2 separate regions of the Homo sapiens genome follow, and region 1 is linked to region 2. A link means that fine-mapping ties the variant in region 2 to the expression of a gene that starts in the linked region. Tissue or cell type: whole blood. Region 2 holds a variant in brackets; the other region holds the start of a gene. All regions are shown on one strand. Distances are between the middles of the regions.

The links. PIP is the estimated chance that this variant, and not a neighbour inherited with it, causes the effect.
Region 1: SPG7 starts here. The variant in region 2 is fine-mapped to the expression of SPG7 in whole blood (TOPMed, PIP 0.99).

What each region holds. Positions count from the first base shown.
Region 1 is chr16:89,507,205-89,509,879 of GRCh38, forward strand. It overlaps SPG7 (SPG7 matrix AAA peptidase subunit, paraplegin), which reads left to right and starts at 1,199. Exons shown (of 17, transcript NM_003119.4): 1 at 1,199-1,396. The coding sequence starts at 1,214. It overlaps LOC101927863 (a long non-coding RNA gene), which reads right to left and starts at 1,116. Exons shown (of 5, transcript NR_188547.1): 1 at 1,033-1,116. RefSeq lists silencers at 513-582, 703-912, 983-1,542, 1,573-1,692.
Region 2 is chr16:89,316,220-89,318,891 of GRCh38, forward strand. It overlaps ANKRD11 (ankyrin repeat domain containing 11), which reads right to left. Exons shown (of 13, transcript NM_013275.6): 3 at 714-859. The coding sequence starts at 800. LOC128462377 reads right to left here. Exons shown (of 2, transcript NM_001416403.1): 2 at 827-856. The coding sequence ends at 827. Among named protein-coding and RNA genes, the nearest start is that of ZNF778, 100 kb to the left of the region's middle. RefSeq lists enhancers at 1-211, 11-110, 804-1,395, 1,396-1,987 and a silencer at 95-245. The variant T/C (reference allele first, on the strand shown) is at 1,098.

The sequences.
Region 1 (2,675 bases), 190 kb after region 2:
TCCAGAAACAAACCAGACCGGCCTTGAAATTCTGCCCTAACTTCAGAGCTGTAATCCTAGGCAGGTTACTTTTAATACTTCTGAATCTTTCTTTACATGTAAAATAGAGGTATTGTATTCGCTGCACAGGGTTGTGAATATTACATGGGTGTTCGACACGGAGCTAGGCACTCGGTGATGTTGGCTGTCGTCACTGGCATTCACTGTTACGAATTTGCGGAGTACAGAAAAGCATAAAAATAAATAGGTCACCCTCATCCTACCTCTGTGACAGACCATCTAGTCTTTGCTTTTCCTACTCAACAAGCTTTCCAGCTCTTGGCGTCAGCTCTAGACCTAAGGCGGACGGAGGAAGGGGTCGGGGTGGCGGAGGACCCCGCGCGCCTGGGAGCCCACGAGGGACCCTGCCCGGGCCCGGAGGGCGGACCCTGAAGAGAACAGAGCCTCTTCCTAAGCTTCCAGACGGCGCCTCCCCGCTTCCTACGATGGGCTCGCGCAGCGGCCGGGGCAGGACCGAGGCTCGAAGCGCCTCCGAGGTGAGCCAGTCCGAAGGCACAGGACGGAGCGCTCCGAAGTCAGAGGTGTGCGGGACGAGCTCTGCAGACGCCTGCCAGGCCGCGCCGCACTGCGCGCTCCCTCCCTCACGACCCTCCTCCTCCGGGGCTGCCCTCCCTGCGGCGGCTGCAACTTCAGTCCTCGTCCTCGGGCGGCTCAAGACGCAGGAAAACCGCCCCCTTCCTGCGCTCCTCACACCCGAAGGGGCCCTCCCGACCCGAGGCCTCCGGCGCCGCCCTCCTGAGCGCGGGCCTCTACTCGCAGGCGGGATTCCGGCCCGCACCATCCGCCCTCGCCTGTGACCGAACCCTGCGGGTGACGCAGGCTGCCCGGGCGTGAGGCCCCTCGGCGCGGGCGGAGCACGACCACGCAGCCACGACCCGGCCGGTTATTCACCCGCCAGGCCCTGGGAATACAAGGCCGGCTTCAAAAAAACCAGGGCACCCGCGACCTCCTCGCAGACGCGCGCCCCCATACCCGGGCCTCAGGCAGCCACGAGGTAGACGGGCTCAGGCTCGGGGGTGCGGCAAGCGGCACCCGGGCGCGGCGGGGCGCAGCTGTGGGGACCGCGCAGGCGCCACGTCAGACCCCGCCCACCCCGCCGCGCAGGCGCCGTGTAGCGCCCCGCGGATCACGCAGGCGCGGCTTTCAGGCCAACATGGCCGTGCTGCTGCTGCTGCTCCGTGCCCTCCGCCGGGGTCCAGGCCCGGGTCCTCGGCCGCTGTGGGGCCCAGGCCCGGCCTGGAGTCCAGGGTTCCCCGCCAGGCCCGGGAGGGGGCGGCCGTACATGGCCAGCAGGCCTCCGGGGGACCTCGCCGAGGCTGGAGGCCGAGCTCTGCAGGTAAATCCCCGCGGAGTCCGGGCCCCACCTCCCGCCCGGCTCTGCTCTGTAAGGCCCAGCCCGGCGGGGCGGGTCGGAGGCCGCCTGGCCCCTGCGGCGGGGGAGCCTGCGCCTGTGGGCCCGCGGATCCCCCAGCTGTGGACCTCGGCGCGGAGCGACTGTTGGGGCCCTGGATCGTGGGCGCTGGGCGGGCCGGGAAGAGGCAGGGCTGGGATCCGCGCAGTCCTCGGCGTGGACTTTCCCAACCCGTCTGTTGTGTGTGGATGTTCTCCGCCCGTCTTCCTCGCCTTTTAAAGTGGAATCCAGTAACGGTTTCCGGCGTAGCACTAATTTACAGTCCACGCCTGTGGATCGATTCCGTCACCAGGAATTCCAGCGCCTTCCAGTTAGGGTGGTTATTGCCGAGTAGGGGGCCCAGAACGTTTCTGTGTCCGCAAAATACCCTGTAGCTGCATTTTGCTGTTGTCATGTAGCTCGGCACGTTATTGATACAGTCATTGAGCACCCCCTGTAGTGCGGCCTTGTTTCAGGTTCTGCTAAGGATAGGATAGCATCTCCTCCCGAAAACCAGACCTTGTGTCCTTCAGCTTTTGGGCTGATGTTTTTTTCTCCTAGCCCTCGCCTAGGAGCTTAGCCCACACCTTTTAGGTTGTTGTTTTTTCGGTTATTTTTGAGACAGAGATCTCGCTCTGTCGCCCAGGCTGGAGTGCAATGGTCTTGGCTCACTGCAACCTCCGCCTCCCGGGTTCAAGCGATTCTCCTGCCTCAGCCTCCTGAGTAGCTGGGATTACGGGTGCGCGCCACCACACCCAGCTAATTTTTGTATTTTTAGTAGAGACGGGGTTTCACCATGTTGGCCAGGATGGTCTCCATCTCTTGACCTTGTGATCCGCCTGCCTCGGCCTCCCAAAGTGCTGGGATTACAGGGCGTGAGCCACCGCGCCCGGCCATAAAACATATTTAAATGGGAAAATGTTTATCTTGAAAGGAGAACTCTGAAAGTATATACTTGTTAACTGGTTTGGTACCTGGAAATGTTCTACAAGGAGCCACTCTCTGGTGACAGCAGGAGCCCCGTGTCTGGGCAGCCACTGTGGCCTTTGGAGAGCTGGGCTGCTCCCTTTCTCCTGCAGAAGCTTCAGGCCATGGGATAGCAGCCAATGTACTTCTGTGTTTTGTTTTCTTCTTTTTTTTTTTTTTTTTTTTTTGTGACAATCTCGCTGTGTCGCCCAGGCTGGAGTGCAGTGGCCTGATCATGGCTCCCTGAAGCCTCTGCCTC
Region 2 (2,672 bases):
AGGAGACACCTGACTTGTTGACGGTCACAAAGATAACACATGGCAAAGCCTGAACTTGAACCTGGATCTGTCCAAGTTCACATTCGCTGGGCACACCCCAGAACTCGGCGTCTCCCCTCACAGTGCAGGACAGGAAGTCTGTACTTCCTAACACCCCAGAACCCAGCAGCACCCGCCAATACTGCAGGACAGGAAGTCTGCACCCCAGGAAACTGCATCACCCCCCACACTGCAAGGCAGGAAGTCTGCACACCAGGAATCAGCGTTAACCGCACATTAATAAAATGCAGTGGTTTTGATTGGCATCCCATTTTCCTATTCACATTTAGAATAAACCACAGTTGGAAGTAACGTGGCCCAGCATTGCTTGCAGTCAGGATATCTGAATGCCTGACAGGCCTAACAGGAGCCAGGACAGAAATCCTGGACTTCTGGGGGTAGAAACGTGCAGCCACATTGAGGCTCAGGCCAACTTCTGTACATAAAGCTATTATTTAACGCTTGACTTCGGTCCCCAAATAACAAATACAAAAAAAGCAAGGCCACTTTGGGAAAGATCACTCCTCACCACCCTCTCCACTCCTGGCTGCAGACAGAGGCACGAGGAAAGGGCCGGAGGGCGGAGAACAGGCCACAGGCGGGCAGCACCCCATTCCCACCTCATCCCCATCTGGGTGCGGTGAGCATGCAGGGCTGGGAGGGGGCAGCATTACCTTTTTCCCAGTCTGCTTCTCCACCATGTCGCTGCTGAGGGGAAGCTCTTCCTGCTGTGGTGCTTTAGGGCACCCACCCTTGGGCATCGTCCTGCTCCTCACCCGATCTTCATTTACACGGCCGGCGCTTCATCATCAACCGTCTGCTTCAAAAGAGAAGACACACAATTCACTGAATTCAGAGGCAGCTCAAAACTCATCCACTCTCACACCGCACTCAACAGACTCAGTAACTAGTCAAGGCAGGCAGCTGCTCTGATCAGGGCTGGGGCCCGGGCCAGGCCCAGGAAGGGACTTCTCAGGATACGCCTCCCATAAAGGGGTCACCAGCAACAGGAATGGCAGCTTTGAGCAGGAAGGAGAACAGAGAAGGGTCAAGCACTT[T/C]GTAGTGGCAGAAAGGGACGCATGGCCTAGGGTGTGGCTGTGTTCTGGGTGGCAGTCAGCAGCACCTGGATCCTGGGTCCCACCTGGTACAGGCTACACCCAAAACGGTCAGGCACCACAAGGCAGTCCCTTCCCCGCATTACAGGCAAGGTCACAACACGCAGCGCAGTACCCCAGCCCTCAGGTCTGGCAGGTCATGTCCACAGCCCCAGCCTCACGCCCCACTCACCACCTGGGAAGGAGCTCCTGTCCCCACCAGGCCTGTGCTTTTTGCACACCCAGTTCCCTAACTTGGTAGGCAAGGGGTGTCTCTGAGCGAGTCCCAGCAGCTCCGAGGTCCCAACTCCACGCCCATGGAAGCAGACGCCCCCTCGGGCCTCAGGCTCCAGCTCCTGGGTTTCCCAGGAAATCCGAGGACACATACTGTATTAATTGTATATTATTTTTATTTATTAATCATGTTTTATTTTAGGAAATTTTGCCATCTTAACAAGTTTCTGGCCAGGGAGAGACTGCCCCTCTCTCAGGGCTGGCAAATTCCTAGATAGCCAAGGGCTCCCATGCAACCCAATCACCTTCTTACCCAAGTTCACGCCCAGGCCAAGCCCTGCCTGAAACCAGCGCAGAGCCAGGTAAAGGAAACTAGAAAGTGTCCCTACAGCACAAAGCCTGCAAGAACTTTCCGAAGCAGCCACTCCCGAACTATTTGCTCTGCCCCGTCCCTCTCTTTCTGCAGGAAACCCAACAGGCAGTTGGGGGAGGCCTTCCCCGAGCCCCTGCTTCCGACTCCCACCCCCGTGGTGTGAGGCTGCCCCTCTGCGACACACGGTGCGAGCGCACTTCTTCCTTCCCAGCCTCGTCCTGGTCTCTTCTGTGGCGATGCCAACTTCCCCACGCCACGCCTGGCATGGACACTCTCGGAGCATGGGCCTCCTCCCTGCCTGTGGGCCTTCTAGGTTTGTTCACCATCACAGCCAGGCCTCCCGGGTGCACTCACGAGAGGAATGGGGGACACACCTACACACCCACACCCAAAGCCACTGTCCCCCCATCATGTCCTCGCCGCACCGTCAGTTAGAAAACATTTCATACAAATGGAACTGTGTGCACGTCTCTGCCCTTTCCGCCACAGCAGCACCTCTGTGCGCGACCATGCCGGGAGAAGCAGCTTCTGCAACTCGCTCCCCTGCATTTACCCATCTCGCTCATGCACGAAGTATGGCTTTTGAAACACGATGTGCAGACCCATCTGTGAGTGGCAGCTCCACTGTGAGCCTCTCCCACCTCCACCCCGTCAGCTAAAGGATACGTTGCATGCCACCTGCCCCTGGACGCAGGCTTGGCTGAGACCACAAGATGCTTCTCCTCCAACACCATCTCATGACCTGCTTTGTCTTTCTAAAATAAATGATAAAATCCCACCAACTGCTGTCTTGGTATTTAACTGGTACAAGAACACAGGTGAAGTTATTCTGGAGAGAGGGACAGGTCGGGTCAACGTATTCACTGCCTGACACCTCCACCCGCGGTGCAGGTGAGCAGGTGTTTCCATCCACCATCCCTGATGCCTGAGGC